4 linked regions of the Homo sapiens genome follow. The protein of the gene in region 1 purifies or fractionates together with the protein of each later gene. This does not show direct contact. Each region holds a gene or a part of one and is shown on either strand. Other genes may lie near its edges.

What was found. Proteins that work in one complex are often made in the same cells at the same time.
Region 2: the proteins of RAB43 (region 1) and EVI5L purify together in Homo sapiens (affinity purification with mass spectrometry; one large-scale study listed by BioGRID and IntAct). This does not show direct contact.
Region 3: the proteins of RAB43 (region 1) and WHAMM purify together in Homo sapiens (affinity purification with mass spectrometry; one large-scale study listed by BioGRID and IntAct). This does not show direct contact.
Region 4: the proteins of RAB43 (region 1) and CFAP36 fractionate together in Homo sapiens (co-fractionation; one large-scale study listed by BioGRID). This does not show direct contact.

The regions. Positions count from the first base shown.
Region 1 is NC_000003.12:129,085,625-129,090,804, forward strand, and holds the end of RAB43 (ras-related protein Rab-43), read right to left. Parts: 3' UTR 1,948-5,180; downstream 1-1,947. UniProt on the Homo sapiens protein: The small GTPases Rab are key regulators of intracellular membrane trafficking, from the formation of transport vesicles to their fusion with membranes.
Region 2 is NC_000019.10:7,846,185-7,851,131, forward strand, and holds part of EVI5L (EVI5-like protein), read left to right. Parts: intron 1-311; 5' UTR 312-358; coding exon 359-495; intron 496-1,547; coding exon 1,548-1,737; intron 1,738-2,736; coding exon 2,737-2,961; intron 2,962-3,071; coding exon 3,072-3,146; intron 3,147-3,812; coding exon 3,813-3,938; intron 3,939-4,947. UniProt on the Homo sapiens protein: Functions as a GTPase-activating protein (GAP) with a broad specificity.
Region 3 is NC_000015.10:82,815,095-82,820,041, reverse strand, and holds part of WHAMM (WASP homolog-associated protein with actin, membranes and microtubules), read right to left. Parts: intron 3,351-4,947; coding exon 3,200-3,350; intron 3,164-3,199; exon of another isoform or gene 2,455-3,163; coding exon of another isoform or gene 2,340-2,454; intron 2,123-2,339; coding exon 1,953-2,122; intron 720-1,952; coding exon 554-719; intron 1-553. UniProt on the Homo sapiens protein: Acts as a nucleation-promoting factor (NPF) that stimulates Arp2/3-mediated actin polymerization both at the Golgi apparatus and along tubular membranes. Its activity in membrane tubulation requires F-actin and interaction with microtubules.
Region 4 is NC_000002.12:55,525,185-55,530,131, reverse strand, and holds part of CFAP36 (cilia- and flagella-associated protein 36), read right to left. Parts: intron 1,255-4,947; coding exon 1,140-1,254; intron 695-1,139; exon of another isoform or gene 1-694. UniProt on the Homo sapiens protein: May act as an effector for ARL3.

The sequences.
Region 1 (5,180 bases):
GAGATGGTCGGTCTGCGGGGAGCAGCTCAGACTGGGGGTGGCAGAGCAGCGTGTGGCTGTGTGTGGCCAGGTCAGGGGAGAGTGGCCAATGCTGGGCCCTCTCTAAGGAGCCCGAGGGCCACAAGGACCGTGGAAGAGGTCTTGAGTGAGGGAGTCGGGACCTTGTGGCTAGGGGTCTTGCTTGAGGATGCTCTCTGCAGCCACAAGGAGATGCCCAGGCAGGACCAGGTCAGGAAGAGGCTGGGGCAGAGGCCCAGGCAGGAGGTGGGTGGGCTGGGTGGGGATGGGAGTAGCCAGGGTGAAGGTGAGGACAGGGAAGGGGCCCCCCTGCCTCCTGGCTTCCCTGAGGGCGGGGCTGGCCAATCCCAGCGGCAAATGTGTGCAGGGAGGAGTGGGGTCCAGGTTGGAGCTTTGGGAGCCCTTGGAGGCAGCAAGGCAGACTCACCTCTGGGACCCAGCACCCAGCTTGGGCGTGCAGGTGGGGGCTCAGAAGTGAACATCGTGGGGCTTTGAGCAAGACTCTCTGGGATCCAGTCTCAGCTTCCATACTTTGAAGTCAAGGAGTGGACCTGTGCTGTCTGTTTGCTCTGGGGTCTGGGCAGTCCTGTTGTTTGGGTAGAGGCCTCAGAGGGCCCTAGGGACAGACTGACCCAGGTCTGAGCCTCTTGGGAGCGTGCGGATGGCCGGGCTCAGACAGGCCTGGTTATGGGTTTGACTTACAAGGGGCACACGCGCACTCTGGTGCTTCCTGGCATTCAGAAGAGAAGAGGGAGTTCAGACATCAGGCCTTCCTTCTCCCTGGGAAGGATGGCAGGTGCCTGGAGCCAGGCCTGTCTTGAGAGCCAGGGCTCTGGGTCTTCCTCCTCCAGTGCCCTGTTCCAGGCCTTCAGTGCATAAAGCACTCCCCTCCTGGGGTCTCTTCAGGGCTCCCCGGGATGCAAATGGGACAGGGAATAGGATCCCAGGTTTGAGGAAACCAAGGCCCAGAGAGGAGAAGTGACCTGCCCAGAACCACAGGACAGTCAGGGCACACCTAGGTTTCAACGGCAGGCTGCTATGAGCCCCATCATGTCAGTTTGTCTCAGGCTTGGCAAGGTGGTGCAGCACTGCTAGGCCCCCCTCTTCTTCCTCAGGGTGACCAACCAGCAGCCCTGCTGTTTAAGAGTCCCTTTCGGCAGAAAACCCCTTATTTGAGTGACCAGGAATAGACCCCTGATTATATTGGTGGGCAGGCTATGGATTTCATGGGCTTCCCAGTGCCAGAGACCTGATTCAGGCACTTCTCTAAGCTGAGCATCTACTGTGTGCCTGGTAACATCTCTGTGCTGGTCACATCACAGAAGCAAGAGCCCCTCATGGTGTTCTTAAGTCCTAACTCGGAATAACAACAGGTCAGAGCCCCCCAAAGCCCAGGCACAGGCCCTGAGCCCCTGGACACTGGCGTTTGTGTCTGAGAGGGGGTGAGAACACTTCTCTGTAGGAAATGTCTTCAGCCCAGGATCCAGGGGTGGGGGGAACCTCGACCATGGGGTGGGTTGTTCCTGCCACTGTGGGATCAATGTGGCTACAAGACCCGGGCAAGGGATTCCTCATCCAGGCCTGTGTGCTCAGGAGAGTGACGCTTCCCTCATGGGGAGGTCGGGGTGAGGGTGCCCCTGCCAATCACCAAAGAGCCCTCTCCAACACAAACCCAATGGGAGGAACCTGGGGTGTCCCAGAGAAGGGACCCAGCCCAAGCTTCCTCTGCCCCTCAGGCACCAACTGCTTCTTGCTCAGGGGGGTCCCCCAAGGGTTTAGGGACAGAGGGAAGGTCTCACAGTGCTCTGGGTGGCAGACTGGCAGGGGGCAGCTTGTCTACCACCCCGGGCCTGGAGACTAGTTGAGGCACGTGGCCACCTGGGCCGCCTCTGGGCTCAAAGATCAGAGAACCAGTCCTGGGCGCAGTGGCTTGTTATAGAAATCTGTTTAATGGTTTAGGAATGTGTACACTCTGGCTCTGCCAAGTTTCCATAAAGGCAACTTTTCCATGTTTTAAAAAATAGATTTGGTATAAAGATTTATATATTCATAAATAGGTGGCATGAAAAATTACCAAATGCAAATGGAATACTTGCGCTGACTGAAGCCCTGTTCACCCCAAGTCCAGGCCCTGCAGGGGTCCGAGGGTCTCTGCTGGAGGAGGCCCCAACTCCGGCAGCCTCTTAGGGAAGAGAAACTGAATTAAATGTGTATTAGGAACCCCTCCAGCTCCTTAAGCCAGCGTCGCACTGGCCCCACCGAGGCCTCAGCCCACCTCCCTCTGCTTCCCCCCGCCACCTCCACCATTGCCCCCTCCCCTGCACTCTGGCCCCTGACCCCACCTGTTCCCACTCTTTGGCAATTTATCAACAAAGGAAGAGATGACACTGTTCTCCTTCCGCCCCAGAGCCCGGGCTGCCGGGAGAGCTTAGCCTGCCAAGGGGAGGAAACAAGCCGGCTTTGTTTTGTCTCACACACTTCCCCGTCTTCTCTCCCAGCCCAGTTTTAAGGGCCGGAAGGGCAGTGGGGCCCCCTCCTGGTGGGATACAGCAGGGCAGGAGCCCCTGCAACCCCAGGTACAGGTCTTGAGTCCCTGGACACCGGCTTTTGTGCCTGAGAGGGGGTGGGAACGCTTCTCTGTAGGAAATGGCTTCAGTCCAGGATCCAGGGGTAGGGGAACCTCGACCATGGGGTGGGTTGCTCCTGCCAGGGGGTACTAGGGGCAAGGCCCCAGGGTGGAGCCAGTTCTGGGAGCTGTGTCCAGCTAGGCATCTGTGACCCCAAATGGCATGAATAAAAGGGCAGGTTGCTAAGAGCCAGGGGAGGGCATGGGGCAGGGAGACCAGGTTGGCCCAGACAGGACAGAGGTGCTCCAGGGACAGGGTGCTGGAGTGAAGCCAGGTGGAGCGGTGGAGCTGTGGAGCCTTTGAAACATCCTGAGGGCCCAGGCCTGCCACAGGGTGACCTGGGCAGAGGAGAAGCCCAGAGGACAGCAAGGTGCCCAAATGAGGTCAGGGCTTCTGGGGTGGAGGGACGGGGGGCACAGTGGCGGCGGGGGAAGGAACGTTGAGTCCCAGGTGAGCCTGCCTTTCCAGGCCAAGCCCTTGGAGTGAGGGTGCTCCTGCCTGGGGGGCGAGAAGTGGAAGTGGCTCACAGTCCAAGGTGACAAATGAACCCATCACCGGTCAGCTACCATCCCTGTGAAGGAGCCAGGGTGGAAGGCCCTGTCCATGTCCTCCCTCCCTCCCTAAGCCCTGAGGAAGGTAACAGCCCCACCTGTGAGGCCCCAGCCTGGAAGCAGAGTAGGAGAGCCGGGCTTCTTAGAGGTGGGCAGTGGGTGGTGGTGGGCAGTACTGGTAAGTATGCTTGGGTGGCTGGGACTTGCCCTGGAACTGGGGCTGAAATTCAAACGGGGAGGCCCAGGCCTTTGTTCCCAAGACCCTGTGAATGCTCCCTGTTCCCCCAAAAACAGAGGGGCTCTGCAAGGACAGGCTTCATGGGATTTCTCTTTCAGAGTGGGCCTGCAGTGAAAGACCAGCTCAGCCCCTTCTGACCATGTGACCCCAGAAACTTCAGCCCCAGCAGAAAGGTTGTGAGGCTGGAGGAAGGCACTGCCCACGGCACATCCAGTCCCAGCGGGGTCTGGGGGCACCCCTCAGTGCCAGGCACTGTCTGCCCTGCAAGGGGAGCCCAGGCACTGCAGTGGAGGCGCAGGGGCAGAGCCCAGACCCCACTCAGCTCCACTCTCACCCCTGCCACAAGCAAAGCTGCTGAGAAAGGGAGCCAGGCAGCCTCGCCTCTGGCGCCCCCCAATCTGATGCACCCAGACTCCCCTCAATGCAGGTGCTAGCCCCTCAGCTCCTGGCAGCCTTCCTCCCCTGCAGAACCAGGCTCAGCCATTCCACAGGTAGCCTCCCTGCCCAAAAGGAAGCCTGGCAGGTGAGATGCTGGCTCCACCACCAGCATCAAGCCCTGCTTGTCTCAGTCTCAGCAGAGGAAACCCTGTCCAGGCCCCAACCCTGCCTCTTGGGTCACCGTGGCACTGCTGTAAGGCCTGCTCTTGCCCTATGGCCAGGCCTGCCTGGAAAGTGCTTAGTGCAGAGGGCAGGGAGGCATGGGGGAGGCCTCTCACTGGCCCAGGGACTGCACTGAGCCATGCCTGGCCTGCCCCTGGGAGCTAGACCACAAACCGACGCAGCCCTGCTCGTGGGTCCAAGAGCTGCTTACTTCTGGGGGCACCCATGCTGAGGGGGCTGCGAGGCAGAGCTGGGCTGACACAGACGGACTGGGATTGGCTAAGGAAGATCACCTGGCCCCTCCAGCCCTAGCCCTGGCTCTTTTGTCACTGTGATACCTCTGAGCCACATGCCCAGAGGACAATGCTGCTTCCCACATCCCCCTACCCCACTTTTGCCTTCTAACCTTGGTGCCCAGCTCAGGGTGAGGCAGTTAAGGGTCCAGGGAATAAAATGGGCCAGGCCAAGGACCGCCAGGGCCTCTCCTTTTTTGTCTGGGAGACTCGATTCCATAGACTGGGACCCACGCTCGGCTGGCAGGATTCCTGCTTGTGGGGTAAGGCTGGGTGCCTTGCGGTGCCCTCTCATCCCTGAGCCTCAAGGATGCAAGCTTCTACTTGGACCTTAAATGTCCACTTTCTCATCTCATTCCCCCACCTGCCAGACTTCTGAGTGCTGGCACTGAAGGATTAGCTAATTTTGCAACCTGAGTGGCAAAACACTGGGCCCTGAGCCAGCAGACAGTCCCCACCTAGCTGTGGGCCGTGACCCCACCTAGCTGTGGGCCGTGACCCCATGCTGTGCTGATGAAAATGAGAAGCTACACAGAAAGTCAGAAAACTCAGAGGTCCTGATAAGGCAGTGAGCCAGACCCCAGGGAGATGTCTGTGAGTGCTGCGGGGGCAGTGAAGGCAGGAAGCAGGTTCCCCGCCTGGAAGGGGCTGGGGCTTCCCTGGAGCTGCGCTCAGGCACCAAGTCTGTGGGTCTCATGGCTCTAGCTCTGCTGCTCTGTGCAGAGCCCCAGGATGACCGGGAAGAACCCAGGGCACTGGACACATCCCTGGAAAGCAGCAACCTGCTGCCACAGGTAAAGCAAACCCATGAGAGGAAACGGTCAGAGCCAGCAGGCATGGGACAGGGAGGACT
Region 2 (4,947 bases), on another chromosome or scaffold:
TCAGGGGTGTCGAGTTGAGCCTTGGCCTTCATGCCCAGGGACAGCAGGACGGCTCACATCCTGGCAACAGTCCTCCCATCTCCATCCAGACATCCGGCCTGATGACACAGGCAGGGATCCCAATCGCCAGGGTCTCGAACAGAAGGGGCAGCATGGCTGTCAGCTGGGCTGGGGCGCATGGGGATGAGGGGTGCACGGACGGGGGTGGACCAGAGGCAGGAAGCCCAGGGTGAGGAAATGTCCCGAGGGTGGGCAGGCAGGATGGAGTGGGCTCCCACCCAATGCCGACCACGCATGTCTCTGGCCCCCAGACAGAGCTGTGAACCAACCCCGCTCACGGCTAACAAGCCCACCCACCATGGCGAGCCCCACTCTGAGCCCCGACTCCTCATCCCAGGAGGCCCTGTCGGCCCCCACCTGCTCCCCAACCTCTGACTCCGAGAACCTCAGCCCCGATGAGCTGGAGCTGCTGGCCAAGCTCGAAGAGCAGAACCGGTGAGTTGGGGGCTGGGGGATGGGGTGAAATCTTGGGGTGCAGTCTGGGCCCCCACAGGAGTTCCCAGGTGCCCTCACATTCAGAGCCAGGCCCAGTGTGTGCAATGTGACAGCCACCTCCAGATGCTGGATGAGGGACAGACACCTCCTTTCATCCTCCCAACCCTGGCTGAATATATGTGTCCCCACCCTGTTCAGATGAGACTGAAGGTTTGAGAGGTCAAGTGAATCTGTGAATCCGCCGCGGTTAATGGAGCCAGGACTGGAGGAAGAGTCGATTCGGGCCTTCCTGCTTTCTTCCTCTGACCCTACCCCCATTTAAAATGCAGGTTTTAGGCTGGACGTGGTGGCTCACACCACCGAACACTTTGGGAGGCCGAGGCAGACGGATCACTTGAGGTCAGGTGTTTGAGACCAGCCTGGCCAACATGGTGAAATCCTGTCTCTACTAAAAACACAAAAATTAGCTGGGCATGGTGGTGGGTGCCTGTAATCTCAGCTACTTGGGAGCCTGAGGCAGGAGAATCACTTGAACCCGGGAGGCGGACGCTGCAGTGAGCCAAGATCACGCCACTGCACTCCAGTCTGGGCAACAAGAGCAAAACTCCGTCTCAAAAAAAAGGGGGCGCTGAGGGCAGTGGCTCAAGCCTGTAATCCCAGCAGTTTAGGAGGCTGAGGCAGGTGGATCACCTGAGGTCAGGAGTTCGAGACCAGCCCGACCAACATGGTGAAACCCCATATTTACTACAAATATAAAGTTAGCCAGGTGTGGTGGCATGCACCTGTAATCCCAGCTACTCAGGAGGCTGAAGCAGGAGAATTGCTTGAACCAGGAGGCAGAGGTTGCAGTGAGCTGAGATCACACCACTGCACTCCAGCCTGGGCGACAGAGCAAGACTCCATCTCAAAGAAGAAGAAAAAAAAAAGAACAAGAGGGACCTAATCCCTGGTGTCCTCTAAGACCCCCAGGAGGGGGAGGATGGGCTGGGCTCGCCAAGGATCCCTGTCCCCAGGGAGTCACTGGTTCCCCTCTGTCGGCCCTTCCTGCCCAGGCTCCTGGAGGCCGACTCCAAGTCCATGCGCTCCATGAATGGCTCGCGGCGGAACAGTGGCTCCTCGCTAGTGTCCAGCTCCTCGGCCTCCTCCAACCTGAGCCACCTGGAGGAGGACACGTGGATCCTGTGGGGCCGGATCGCCAACGAGTGGGAGGAGTGGCGGCGCAGGAAGGAGAAGCTGCTCAAGGTGGGGGGCGGCCAGGCAGGCAGGGCTGGGCCGACGGCGTGGGCAGGTGGTGCGGTCACTCAGCCACCAGGCAGCGCCAGGGTCTGCGGGGCCCCAGCCTGGGCACAGCGGCAGCAGTGGAGATGTGCAGGCACTTTCAGGGTGTCCTGCCAGAGCACAGGGACAGGAGAGAGTGAGTCAGGGTGGTGCTGGACAGGCCCTGCACCCTCGAGTGCCCATGTGCTTGCTGCCCTGTAGTGCCCATGAAGGATGGGGGTGTGGTGGCTCACGCCTGGAATCTCAGCACTTTGGGCGGCCAAGGTGGGAGGATCGCTTGAGGCCAGGAGTTCGAGGCCAGCCTGGGCAACGTAATGAGACTCCGACTCTATAAAAAGTTTAAAAATTAGCCAGGTAGGCCGGGCGCAGTGGCTCACGCCTGTAATCCCAGTTCGTTGGAAGGTCGAGGCAGGCAGATCACCTAAGGTCAGGAGTTCAAGACCAGCCTGGCCAACATGGCGAAACTCCGACTCTACTAAAAATACAAAAATTAGCTGGGCGTGGTGGCGTGCACCTGTAATCCCAGCTACTTGGGAGGCTGAGGCAGGAGAATCACTTGAACCTGGGAGGCAAGAGGTAGCAGTGAGCCAAGATCACGCCACTGCACTCCGGCGTGGGCAACAGAGTGAGACTCCATCTCAAAAAAAAAAAAAGTTTAAAAATTAGCCAGGCGTGGTGGTGCACAACTGTAGTCCCAGCTACTCAGGAAGCTGAGGCAGGAGGATCGCTTGAGCCCAGGAGTTCAAGGCTGCAGGGAGCTATGATCGCACCACTGCACTCCAGCCTGGGTGACAGAGGGAGACCCTGTCTCTGAAAAAAGGGGGTAAAAAAAGGATTGGGGACCATGAGTTCTGTGCCATGCTTGAGGCCTGGATGAGCCACGCCTGAGGAGCTGGGCTGGGTGGCCACGGGGAGGCTGCGCTGGGACCGAGTCCAGCCCCCGCTTCCCGCTCCCGTGGCCAGGAGCTGATCCGCAAGGGCATCCCCCACCACTTCCGGGCCATCGTGTGGCAGCTTCTGTGCAGCGCCACGGACATGCCCGTCAAGAACCAGTACTCCGAGCTGCTCAAGATGTCCTCGCCGTGCGAGAAGCTGATCCGCAGGGACATCGCCCGCACCTACCCGGAACATGAGTTCTTCAAGGGCCAGGACAGCCTGGGCCAGGAGGTCCTCTTCAACGTCATGAAGGTGAGGCCCAGGGCTCCCCGCTCCCTCGGTCCCAAAGGAAGGAGAAGTTCCCCAGTTCACCGGCTGTGCTGGACGGCGGGACCCTGCTCTCAGGACTTGTTCCCTTCTAGGCATACTCGCTGGTAGACCGGGAGGTGGGCTACTGCCAGGGAAGCGCCTTCATCGTGGGCCTGCTCCTCATGCAGGTAGGTGGCTGGGGGGTGGCTGGGCTCCTGCCAGACAACAGCCCACCCTGGGCTCGGCCCCCAAGAGATGGACAGAAGTGGCGTGTCCTCCACCCAGCGTCTTGCTAGGGGTAGATCCTCCTTCTCCATCCACACCCGTGACCTCTGCCAATCGCCAGGCCAAGGCCCAGTGAGTGGCACCTGTCTGGTTGGGTCCTGTCTGCTGTACCATCCAGGACAGAGACCGGGTTTGGAGGGATAGGCTGTCTCTCTCTGCCACATCTCAGGGTTGGACAGGAACCTCAGGCTGGGGACTTAAGCCATCCAGCGTGGTGTTTATGGGGCTTGGGGGTCTCCTCCAGAGAAATCGGGAGGCTGACAGGGAGAGAGGACGCAGCTGGGACAGGAGGTATCCTAACCAGGGGGATGCTGGCAGTGGCCAGCCCTGGGTTCAGGTCCAGCTCCCCTGTTTCCTGCCGAGTGGCCCTTGGCAGGTGACCTCAGCCTCAGGTCTTCCATCAGTAAAACAGCTTGTGAGGACACAGGGACCAACAGTGTGTCATGAGAGTCTAGGGAGCCAGGTACCGACATGGACATGGGCCCCTGTACCCCAGGGCCCTGATGAGCAGCGAGATGCCCCTCCCCGCTGCGCTGCCCTGAGCCCCCCCACCTGCCCGTCCCCCCTAGATGCCTGAGGAGGAGGCCTTCTGTGTGTTCGTGCGGCTGATGCAGGAGTACCGGCTGCGGGAGCTCTTCAAACCCAGCATGGCCGAGCTCGGGCTCTGCATCTATCAGTTCGAGTACATGCTGCAGGTGAGCAGGGCCGCAGGAGAGCAGGGCTGCAGGAGGGCAGGGCCACAGGTGGGCAGGGCCGCAAGGGAGCAGGATCGCAGAAGGGCAGGGCTGGCACCCTAGACCATACCCGGGCACCTCTTGGACTGAAAATTCCAAGCCTGTGAAATCACACCTGGACGTTCCAACTCCAAAAGGCACTCCTCTTTCCATGCAGCACTGCCCTGAAGGATGCTTGGAGGAACAGGAGAGCCACCACTGAAGGGGGGCTCCCAGGGCTGCTGAGGCAGAGGGGTGGGGCAGGCTCACATCGGACACAGCCACAGCCACCTCCCTGTCTGCTCCAGAGTGTGGTGGAAGGAGGGAGTGTTGTCTGCCTGCCTGATTACTGGAGAGCCGCAGACGTCTGTTTATAAATAGCAGCCCCCGCAGGGCCTGCTCCCGGCTGGCAGGCAGAGCCGCCAAGGCCGTTTGCGAACATACACACACCCGCATGCATACACACACACGCAGACACACACACACACACCGGCCCGCCTCAGCTGCCATGGCAGGTGGGGCTGTGCAGTCATCCCTGGATGTGACAGCCCCACTCCCTGGGCCTGGATCATGGACGGTGCTGTAGCCTTAGGGGGCCTGGTAGTGCCACAAGCAGGAGGCCTGGGCTGCAGAGAAGGCACCACCCCACCTCAGGCTGGGTAGCAGAGCCCTCCCACAGCCAAGCTTGCAAACTCAGGGCGCAGAGAGCCCCTGGCGCTGGGAGGAAGCCCGGGATCCTAACGCCTTCTCCGGCCTCAGTTTCCCCAGCCGTCTGCCACTTTCTGGCTGTCTAGAGTTCAGGCCAATCCAACACAGCTTGCACAAAGCTTTATGCTGGGGTCCAAGGGAGGTACAGTGGCTGGCAGGTCACGTAACAAGGTGGGGGGGGGGCTCCCCCCAGGGCCAGAGGCTGCCACTTGCCCATGCTCCACCTCTGGGTCTCAGGGTGTCTGTGGGGAGTGACCCAACTCCCCCAGCCTCAGACACACCC
Region 3 (4,947 bases), on another chromosome or scaffold:
TTTTTTTTTTTTTCCTTTTCAAGATGGAGTCTCGCCCTGTTGTCCAGGCTAGAGTGGAGTGGCACGATCTTGGCTCACTGAAACTTCCACCTCCCAGGTTCAAGCCATTCTCCTGCCTCAGCCTCCCAAGCAGCTGGGATTACAGGCACGTGCCACCACACTGGACTTTGTGTTTTTAGTAGAGACAGGGTTTAGTATTTTTGTATTTTTAGTAGAGATGGGGTTTCACCATGTTGGCCAGACTGGTCTGGAACTCCTAATCTCAAGTGATCTGCCCGCCTCGGCCTCCCACAGTGCTGGGATTATAGGCGTGAGCCACTGTGCCCAGCCAACCACTAAGCATCTCTAGATGATGGGATTGGGGTAATAATCATTTTTCTTTCTTTGTTTTGCTATGTGTTAACAATGAATATATTATTTGAATAATAAACCACTGAAGGAAAACTTTAGGAAATTTTCAGATGTTATAATTTACAAAAAGTAATTGATAATATGGTCTGTATTTCCTTAAATTTATAATTTAAACATTGCAATCTATATACTTAAATTTTACCTTTTATAAGTCTTTTAAGAGAGTCCAACTGTGTAGTAAGCAGTATTTCTTCGTTTTTTAATATCTCAAATTTAACTTCATATAGTTCTAATTGAATTTCATAAAATTGTATTTCTAATTCATCTACAACATTTGTATTTTTTTCTTGTTCTGGAAGATCTTCCATCTTATTTTCATAGAAAAAAGAAAAATAAGTTAAAATAAATTAGTATATTAAAAACAAACTTTAGAAGCATTCTAGCTATTTTCTATTCCTTGTTCAGTACTAAATATAACAAAGCAAATAGGAAAGAAACACTTTTTCATTTCATCTAGTGATGCAAATACTTTATCTCATCCTTGAAACAGAGGAAAACATTTAGGTTCTGAGAAACATAAATGGCAATGAGGTATTATTATGTACTGCATATTGGTGTCCCCCCAAAAATTCGTATGTTGACACTCTAACTCCCAGTGTGATGTTATTTGGAGGTGGGTCCTTTGGAAGTAATTAAGTTCAGATTATGTCAAAAGGATAGCACCCCCATCATGGGATTAGTGCCTTTATTAGAAGAGAAAGAGAGGGATCACTTTCTTTCTAAACATACACACAGAAGAAAGGCTATATGAGCACTCAGTTAAGAAGGCAGCTGTCTACCAGACAGGAAGAGGATCCTCACCGGACAGTGAATCTGCAGGCACCTTGATCTTGGACTTTCCAGCCTCCAGAACTGTGAGAAATACATGTCCGTTGTTTAAGCCACCCAATCTGTGATATTTAATCTTGTTATAGAAGCCTGAGCCAACTAAGACAGGTGTTTACAGTGTTTTCTGCTTTAAAGTCATAAGATTATAGGAAAAAATTTAAGTGACTATGCAGTGAAGTATCTCTTTGATTATTTTAAAGTTGTAGTGAAAACATTGCTGGGTTGATTTTCAAGTACAGTACCCATTTCAATACTGAGCTTGGTATTACTATAAAGTGAAACCTACAATATGGTATTTTGAAACATCTTAACCAAAGGAAAACTTTATGTCTAACCTTCCACAGAAGATGGTGTTGGAATAAGCGAAGAAAAGAAGCTCTTTAACGATGCCTGGAAAGAAAAGTGCTATCTAAAAATAAAAGTGTGCTTTACCACATGGTCTCACTTATAAGTGGGAGCTAAGTAATGTGTATACACAGTGTGGAATAATACACACTGGAGACTCAGAAGAGTAAGAGGGTGGGAGGGGGGATGAGAAATATTTAATAGGTACAATTACATTATACAGGTGATGATTACACTAAAAGCCCAAACTTCACCACTACACAATATATCCATGGAACAAAAACTGCACTTGTATCCTTTATTTATACAAAATGTTTTAAAAATAAAAGTGTATTTTTAAAACAAAGTTATGTTTATCTTTGTCTTACCTTTCCCTGAATTTCAGCTCTTTTGTGATTTAAACACAACTCTTTCGCTCTCATGAGTTGCAGAGTCTCTCGAGCTAGCATTAGCTGAAGTTTTTCCAACCTGGGAATTGCTGTGGCCCAGGCAGCCTGACCAAATCTCTTCGCATCCTGTTCCATTTCTTTCTGCATTCCTGTTGGATTATAAAAATAAAATATAATTACACCTCATTAAAAAGGGAAACATTTATCATGAGCTAATCCTTTTTTTATTGCCTCCATACTACCTGCAGAATATCCTTTTTAAAAGAAATTTTATTAACTTTTTTATTATGATAAAAATAATACATGTTCATTGATATAAAATTTTAGGTATTCCATTTTTAAAAAGACAGTAAGTCATGATCTCACCTAGTTGAGGCAACTGCTTCTTATATTTTGGCACACTTGCTTCCATATTGTTTCTATGTCTAGCTAGACAGACAGGCTCATATGGATAGTTTGACCACAAAACCAGGATCATCATTCTGCTTTCTATCTTGTTGATTCTGCACAATGTATCAGAAACTCTTGCCACTCATAAAAAAAAATCAAGAATCATGCTTAACAGCTACGTAGTTTTCTGTTTTATGAAGGTACCATAACTTAACAAACTGACAGACGTTAAGTTGTTTCCTACTTGGTGTTTTTATCAACAATTATTTAAGACTAAAAAAAAGTCCTTCACCCAGCCCACAAGCCCCTGCATGGTCTGACCCCTGCCTGTCTGGCCAGCATTTTCCCTCATACCACACTGTCCTGCACTCTCTGCGATCCAGCCCCGCAGGTTTTCTTTAAGCTCCTAATTTGCCAACTTCCCTCAAGGCAGGGGACTTTTGGCAGTGCTATTCCTTCTGCCCGGAATACTCCTCACTTTTTATTTTCTCTCAACTTCCATTTACCCTTCAGATATTGGGGCAAGCGCCACTTCTCAGAGGCCTTCAGTGACCACCACCCTGATCAAGCCCAATTTCTCTCTCACAGACCCTCAGAGCCCATGTCTCTCTTCTTTGTGCCATTTACTGTCACTGCCATTTTCCATGTGCTTCAATGAATAGATAATTAAGATTTCTCTCCCTTCACCAGACTGTACAACGTCTCTTAACGCTTGACACTGAATTCTCAGCACCTAGAAAACATAGTACCTAGTGCGTAAGAGGGACTCAAATGGTATTTGAATAAAATGATAATCAATTACATGTATCTTCATATAGCATTTTTTAAATTATCACCTGCTAATGCTTTTACTGTCTCCTTAAAATAATTCACTGTGATATCCTGAATAGAGACGACAGCTTCTTCAGCCCGTCTGGTCCATTCTTCAGCTTCTTTCTCCAGGGCAACTACCCTTCTAGGACCTAGGTCATCCTCATCCAAAGACTTCTACAGACAGAAGGGAAAATTTTCTTAGTAAGAGCTAATAGTTATGTAGAGCCATTAGGAAATTGAAAGGAAATTGGTCACATGGATTAATTTAACTACACTACTACTCAGTCAATTAAATTTTCATTCATTCAGCAGTCCCTTACTGCGTATGAATAAGGCTCTAAGCTGAGCACCACCTGTAAGACAAAAGGACACTCTGGGGCATAAAGCGAAAAAAAAACCCACTTTCACTTCACATGCCTAGAATAACTTTTTCTAGAGAGGAATGTTGTCAACTTATGCTTCTATTAATAATAATACACAATTGTTTAAATGAGTGATCTGTGTTGTCAAGCACTCAGCATAGGGCCTGGAACACAGCACTTAAGTATTAGCTGTTGTTACTGTTTCTTTTAGGGATATGTAATATAATCACCTAAAATATAGTATCTGTATATTCATGCTTATAACATGTACTGGTATTGGACTCCCCCCAAAATGCATATGTTGAAGCCTAAATCCCCAGTGTGATCATATTTGAAGATGGGGCCTTTGGGGGGTAATTAGGTCATGAGGGTGGAACCCTCAAGAATGGGATTAATGCCCTTATAAAAAGAAGAGGAGACACAGGATCTCTCTTTCTCTGCTCTTCACCATGCGAAGACACAGCAAGACAGTCATCTACAAATTAAGAAACTGGCCCTCACAAGACAATGGATCTGTGAGCACCTTGATCTCAGACTACCCAGCCTCCAGAACTGTGAAAAAAAAGTTTTGTTGTTTATAAGCCACTAATCTACGGTACTTTGTTATAACAGCCTGAACTAAGACGTGTACTGCTATGTCATCCAATATGCAATTTTTCTTCTACAAAGCCTAAGAAATATGTACAAGTTAGCCGACAAGGAATTACAAATCAAAACCATAACGAGATACCACTTCACACCCACTAGGATGGCTGTAACCAAAGAGACACACAGTAACAAGTGCTGGTGATAATGTGGACAAACCGGAACCCTCATTTACTGCTTTTGGGAATATAAAATATGCACCCACTTTGGAAAACTGTCTGGCAGTCTTTCAAAAGGTTAAACATTGAGTAATCACAGGACCCAGCAATCCTACTCCTTAGTACATACACAAGAGCAATGAAAACATATGTCTACACAGAAACTTACACACAAACATTCACAGAATTATTCATAATAGCCAAAAAGTGGAAACAACCCAAATGTCCATCAACTGATAAATAAAATGTAATATATCCATACAATGAATATTACTCAGCAATAAAAAGAAATGAAATCCTGATATTTGCTCCAACGTGGATTAGCCTTGAAAACATTGTGCTGAGTGAAAGGACCACATATTGAATAATGCTGTTGCTATGTCCAGAGTAGGGAAATCCACAGAGACAGAAAGTAGATTGGTGGTTGCCCAGGGTTGGGAGTGACTAAAGGGTACAGGGTTTCTTTTGGGGGTGAAAATGTCCTGAAATTACACAGTAATGATCACTGCACAACTTTGAATATACTAAAAATCACTGAATTGTACTATATATATATATATATATATATATATATATATATATATATATAAAATCTGTGAGTGATAT
Region 4 (4,947 bases), on another chromosome or scaffold:
CCAAAATTCAATTACCTCCCACTGGGTCCCTCCCACAACACGTGGGAATTCAAGATGAGATTTGGGTGGGGACACAGCCAAACCATATCATTGTTAAAAATGCAAATTATCGGTACCCCAGACCTATTAAATCAGAAACTGGGAGGCAGCCATATGTGCTTCAGCAAGCCCTCCAACCATTTCCAATGCTTGCTAAAGCTTAAGAACCACTGCTTCCGGCCACGTTGGGAGGCCAAGGCGGGCGGATCACGAGGTCAGGAGATCGAGACCATCCTGGCTAACATGGTGAAACCCCATCTCTACTAAAAATACAAAAAATTAGCCCGGAGTGGTGGCAGGTGCCTGTAGTCCCAGCTACTCAGAAGGCTGAGGCAGGAGAATGGTGTAAACCCGCAAGGCAGAGCATGCAGTAAGCCGAGATCATGCCACTGCACTCCAGCCTGAGCAACAGAGCGAGACTCCGTCTCAAAAAAAAAAAAAAAAAGAACCACTGCTTCCTACAAAGGTCCTAACAATCTTAAGCCAGAAAAAGGATGGACACCTCTCAACAGTAACCACAACTATGACCATTCAAAAATACTCAACTTCATAAACATAATGGCTGGGCAGAAAATTGAACTCTGTGAAATCCAAAGTATCATTGAATTCTGGTCTCCTTTCTTTGAGATGTCAAATACAAATCAGGAAGTTTATACTCTTTTTTTTTTTTTGAGACAGGGTCTCACTCTGTCACCCAGGCTGGAGTGCAGTGGCGCGATCTCAGCTCACTGCAAGCTCCACCTCCCGGGTTCACGCCATTCTCCTGCCTCAGCCTCCCAAGTAGCTGGGACTACAGGTGCCCGCCACCACGCCCAGCTAATTTTTTTGTATTTTTAGTAGAGACGGGGTTTCACTGTGTTAGCTGGGATGGTCTCGATCTCCTGACCTCATGGTCTGCCCGCCTCAGCCTCCCAAAGTGCTGTGATTACAGGCGTGAGCCACTGCACCCAGCCATATACTCTAAAATCTCAAGTCAGCTGAAGTCTTTCAAACTTGAAATAAATGTACATGAGACAGCTACATTTAAGACCATATTAGAATAGTCAAAACTGTAAAAAAAAATGCATTTAGTACTTAGATTTCTAACTTCAACATTTTACCATTTCTCTCTTGAATTATTCGAATGGCTTGCAGCTGCATTTCAATGTTTTTCTGGACCATCATTGCTTTAAAGATAGTAAAATCTTCTGCTGCCAACACAGGTTGCAAAATGGCCTGTGGAAAGAAGTCTCAAGTGAAATGAAGATTCAAGTTTTAAAACTATTACCCATACATTCGAACCATTTCTACTGCAAAACAGTAGATTAATTCAAGAATGCTACATTGTTATTTATGATTAGATGTCCCAAAAGGACAATTTTAAAATTTATCTTAATAGCCTTTAAAACAGGGTTCTCAGCCGGGCACGGTGGCTCACACCTGTAAACCCAATACTTTGGGCGGCTGAGGCAGGCAGAACACTTGAGGTCAGGAGTTCAAGATTAGCCTAGCCAACATGGTGAAACCCCATCTCTACTAAAAAAATAAAAAAATTAGCCAGGTGCGGTGGTGCATACCTGTAGTCCCAGCTACTCAGGAGGCTGAGACCGGAGAATCATTTGAACCAGGAGACAGAGGTTGCAGTGAGCCAAGATCGCACCTCTGCACTCCAGCCTGGGTGACAGAGCAAGACTCCGTCTCAAAAAAAAAAAAATTTTTCAAAAGGATCAGTATTGTGATATGCAAATTATATCTCAATAAAGTTGTTTAAAAAAAAAGAAAGCTGGAGTAGCTTAATTTAGTTTCAGATAAAGTAGACCTCAGAACAAGAAAGATGATCAGCAATAAAGAGGGGCATTTGTTTATAATTCTATAAAATATAATACTTTATGATTATTCTATGATTACATATTTTATATATAATTATATAATTCCTTATAATTCTATAAAACAAAAATTGTGGCCAGGCGCAGTGGCTTATGCCTGTAATCCCAGCACTTTGGGAGGCTGAGGTGGGCAGATTACCTGAGGTCAGCAGTTTGAGACCAGCCTGGCCAACATGGCGGAAGGTGTGTACCACATCACCCTGCTAATTTTTTTGTATTTTATAGAGTTGGAGTTTCACCATGTTGCCCAGGCTTGTCTCAAACTCCTGAGCTCAAGCAATCTGCCCACCTTGGCCTCCCAAAGTGCTGGAATTATAGGCATGAGCCACCATGCCTGGCCCACATGTGTTTTTTAGAGTGTGTTGTTTAATCTCCAAGTATTTTGTTTTTTTCCAATTATCTTTTGTTATTTATTTCCAGTTTAATTATGTTGTGGTCTGAGAGCAGACACTGTATGATCTCTCTTCTTTTAAATTTGTTAAGGTATGTTTTATGGCCCATAATGTAGTCTGTCTTGACGAACATTCTGTGTGATCTTGAGAAGAATGTGTATTTTTGATTATTGGATGAAGTGGTGTATGTCAAATAAATTCAGTTGACTGAAGGTGCTGTTGTTTGTTTATTTATTTATTTATTTATTTATTTTGAAATGCAGTCTTGTTCTGTCACCCAGGCTGGAGTGCAGTGGCGCGATCTCAGCTCACCGCAACCTCCACCTCCCAGGTTCAAGCGATTCTCTTGCCTCAGCCTCCTGAGTAGCTGGGATTACAGGTGCCCACTACCACACCCGGCTAATTTTTGTATTTTTAGTAGAGACGGGTTTCACCACGTTGGCCAGGCTGGTCTCGAACTCCTGACCTCAAGTGATCCACCCACCTCGGCCTCCCAAAGTTCTGGGATTACAGGCATGAGCCACCGTGCCTGGCCTGAAGGTGCTGTTTAGTTCAACTATGTCTTTACTGATTTTCTAACTACTGGATCTGTCCAATACTGACAGAGGGTGTTGAAGTCTCCAACTATAATCATGTATTCATCCATTTCTCCTTGCAGTTCCGTTTCTGCCTCACACATTTTGTTGCTTTGTTATTAGGTACATACATATTAAAGATTGTTATGTCTTCTTGGAAATTGCCAGATTTTTTCACATTAATGTGGGCATACCAATAACATTTAAATTATTTTATTATTATTATTATTTTAGAGACAGGGTCTCACTCTGCAGCCCAGGCTGGAATACAGTGGTACAGTCATAGCTCACTGCAGCCTCAAATTCTTGGGCTCAAGCAATCCTCCCACTTCAGCTTCCCAAGTAGCTAGGACTACAGCAGCGTGTCACCATGCCCAGCTAATTCTTGTATTTTTATTTTTTGTAGAGATGGGGTCTTGCATTGTGGCCTAGGCTGGTATTGAGACCCTGGCCTAAAGTAATCCTCCTGCCTCAGCCTCCCAAAGCATTGGGATTACAGGTATGAGCTATCACACCCAGCCAAAATGTAGTGGCTCACACCTGTAACCCCAGAGCTTTGGGAGGGTGAGGCAGGAGGATTGCTTGATGCCAGGACCTCAAGACCAGCCTGGACAACACAGCATGACCCCCTCTCTACAAAACAACTGAAAAATTAGCCAGGCATAATGGTGCACACCTATAGTCCTAGCTACTCAGGAGGCTGAGGCAGGAGATTCACTTGAACCCAGGAGTTAGAGGTTGCATAGAACTATGACTGAGCGACTGCAGTCCAGCCAGGGTGGCAGAGAAAGACTCTGTCTCAAAAACAAAAACAAACAAACAAAAAAGGTTTTCTATTCCTAGAATTAAAGGTGATCATCAAATGAAAAGTTGTGCAAAAGAGGAAGTGCTGGATTAAAAAGTAGTCAAGGCAACCTCTTCTAGGCCATCATAACAAGACAATTTAAATTAATAAACATTTATTGAGAACTATGTACTAGCAACTAAGTTTTCATCTCTGTTCTACCAGCAGGGAATGCAAATATACTAAACACAGCTCAAAGGACTTACAATTTAGTAGGGCAAATAGACTTGTAGGAAACTATAATTCAAGGCAGAGTAACAAAAATATCAATTTACAATTGGCCTAGTTAAGTAGATTGAATTCTGGTCTGACTTTAGAATAAGCAGCAAAGCTGCTATAACAAGTAGCATTTCAACCAGGCCCTGATAATGAGGATTTCTCCGCATTATGAAAGGAATGATGGAGTGGTCTGGGGAGGGGACCATACATTCCAGGTTAAGGGACAGCATGAGCAAAGGTAGGTGTACAGATGCTTATAAGAGCAAGGGGCAGCAGGGCGTGGTGGCTCACGCCTGTAATCCCAGCACTTTGGGAGGCCGAGGCGGGTGGATCGCCTGAGGTCAGGTGTTCCAGCTTGGCCAACATAGTGAAACCCTGCCTCTACTAAAAATACAAAAACTTAGCCGGGCATGGTGGTGGGAGCCTGTAATCCCAGCTACTTGGGAGGCTGAGGCAGGAGAATCACTTGAACCTAGGAGACGGAGGTTGCAGTGAGCCGAGATTGTGCCATTGCACTCCAGCCTGAGCAACAAGAGCGAAACTCTATCTCAAAAGAAAAAAAAAAGAGAGCAAGTTACCTGGAATGGCAGTAGAACATAATGTATTGGAGAACTATAGCAAGGGATCATGGCTAAAAATACAATCTGGAGTCTCATCTTAAACAATTCTTACCATATCTTGCTAAGAAATTACAGTTTATTTAGTAGAAGATGAGATGCCAAAGCCAATGTTTTGTTTTTTGGGGTTGGGTCCTAATCTGTTGCCCAGGCTGGAGTACAGTGGCATGATCTTGTCTTACTGCAGCTTCAACCTCCTAGGCTCAAGTGATGCTCCTACTTCAGCATCCTGAGTAGGTACTCTGGGGAGAACACCACCACAACCTACAACAAGCTAACTTTTATATTTTTTTTAAAGATGGGGTCTCACTATGTTGTCCAGGCTGGTTTCGAACCCCTGGCTTCAAGCAATCCTCCTGTCTTGGTCTCCCAAAGTGCTGGGATTATAGGCATGAG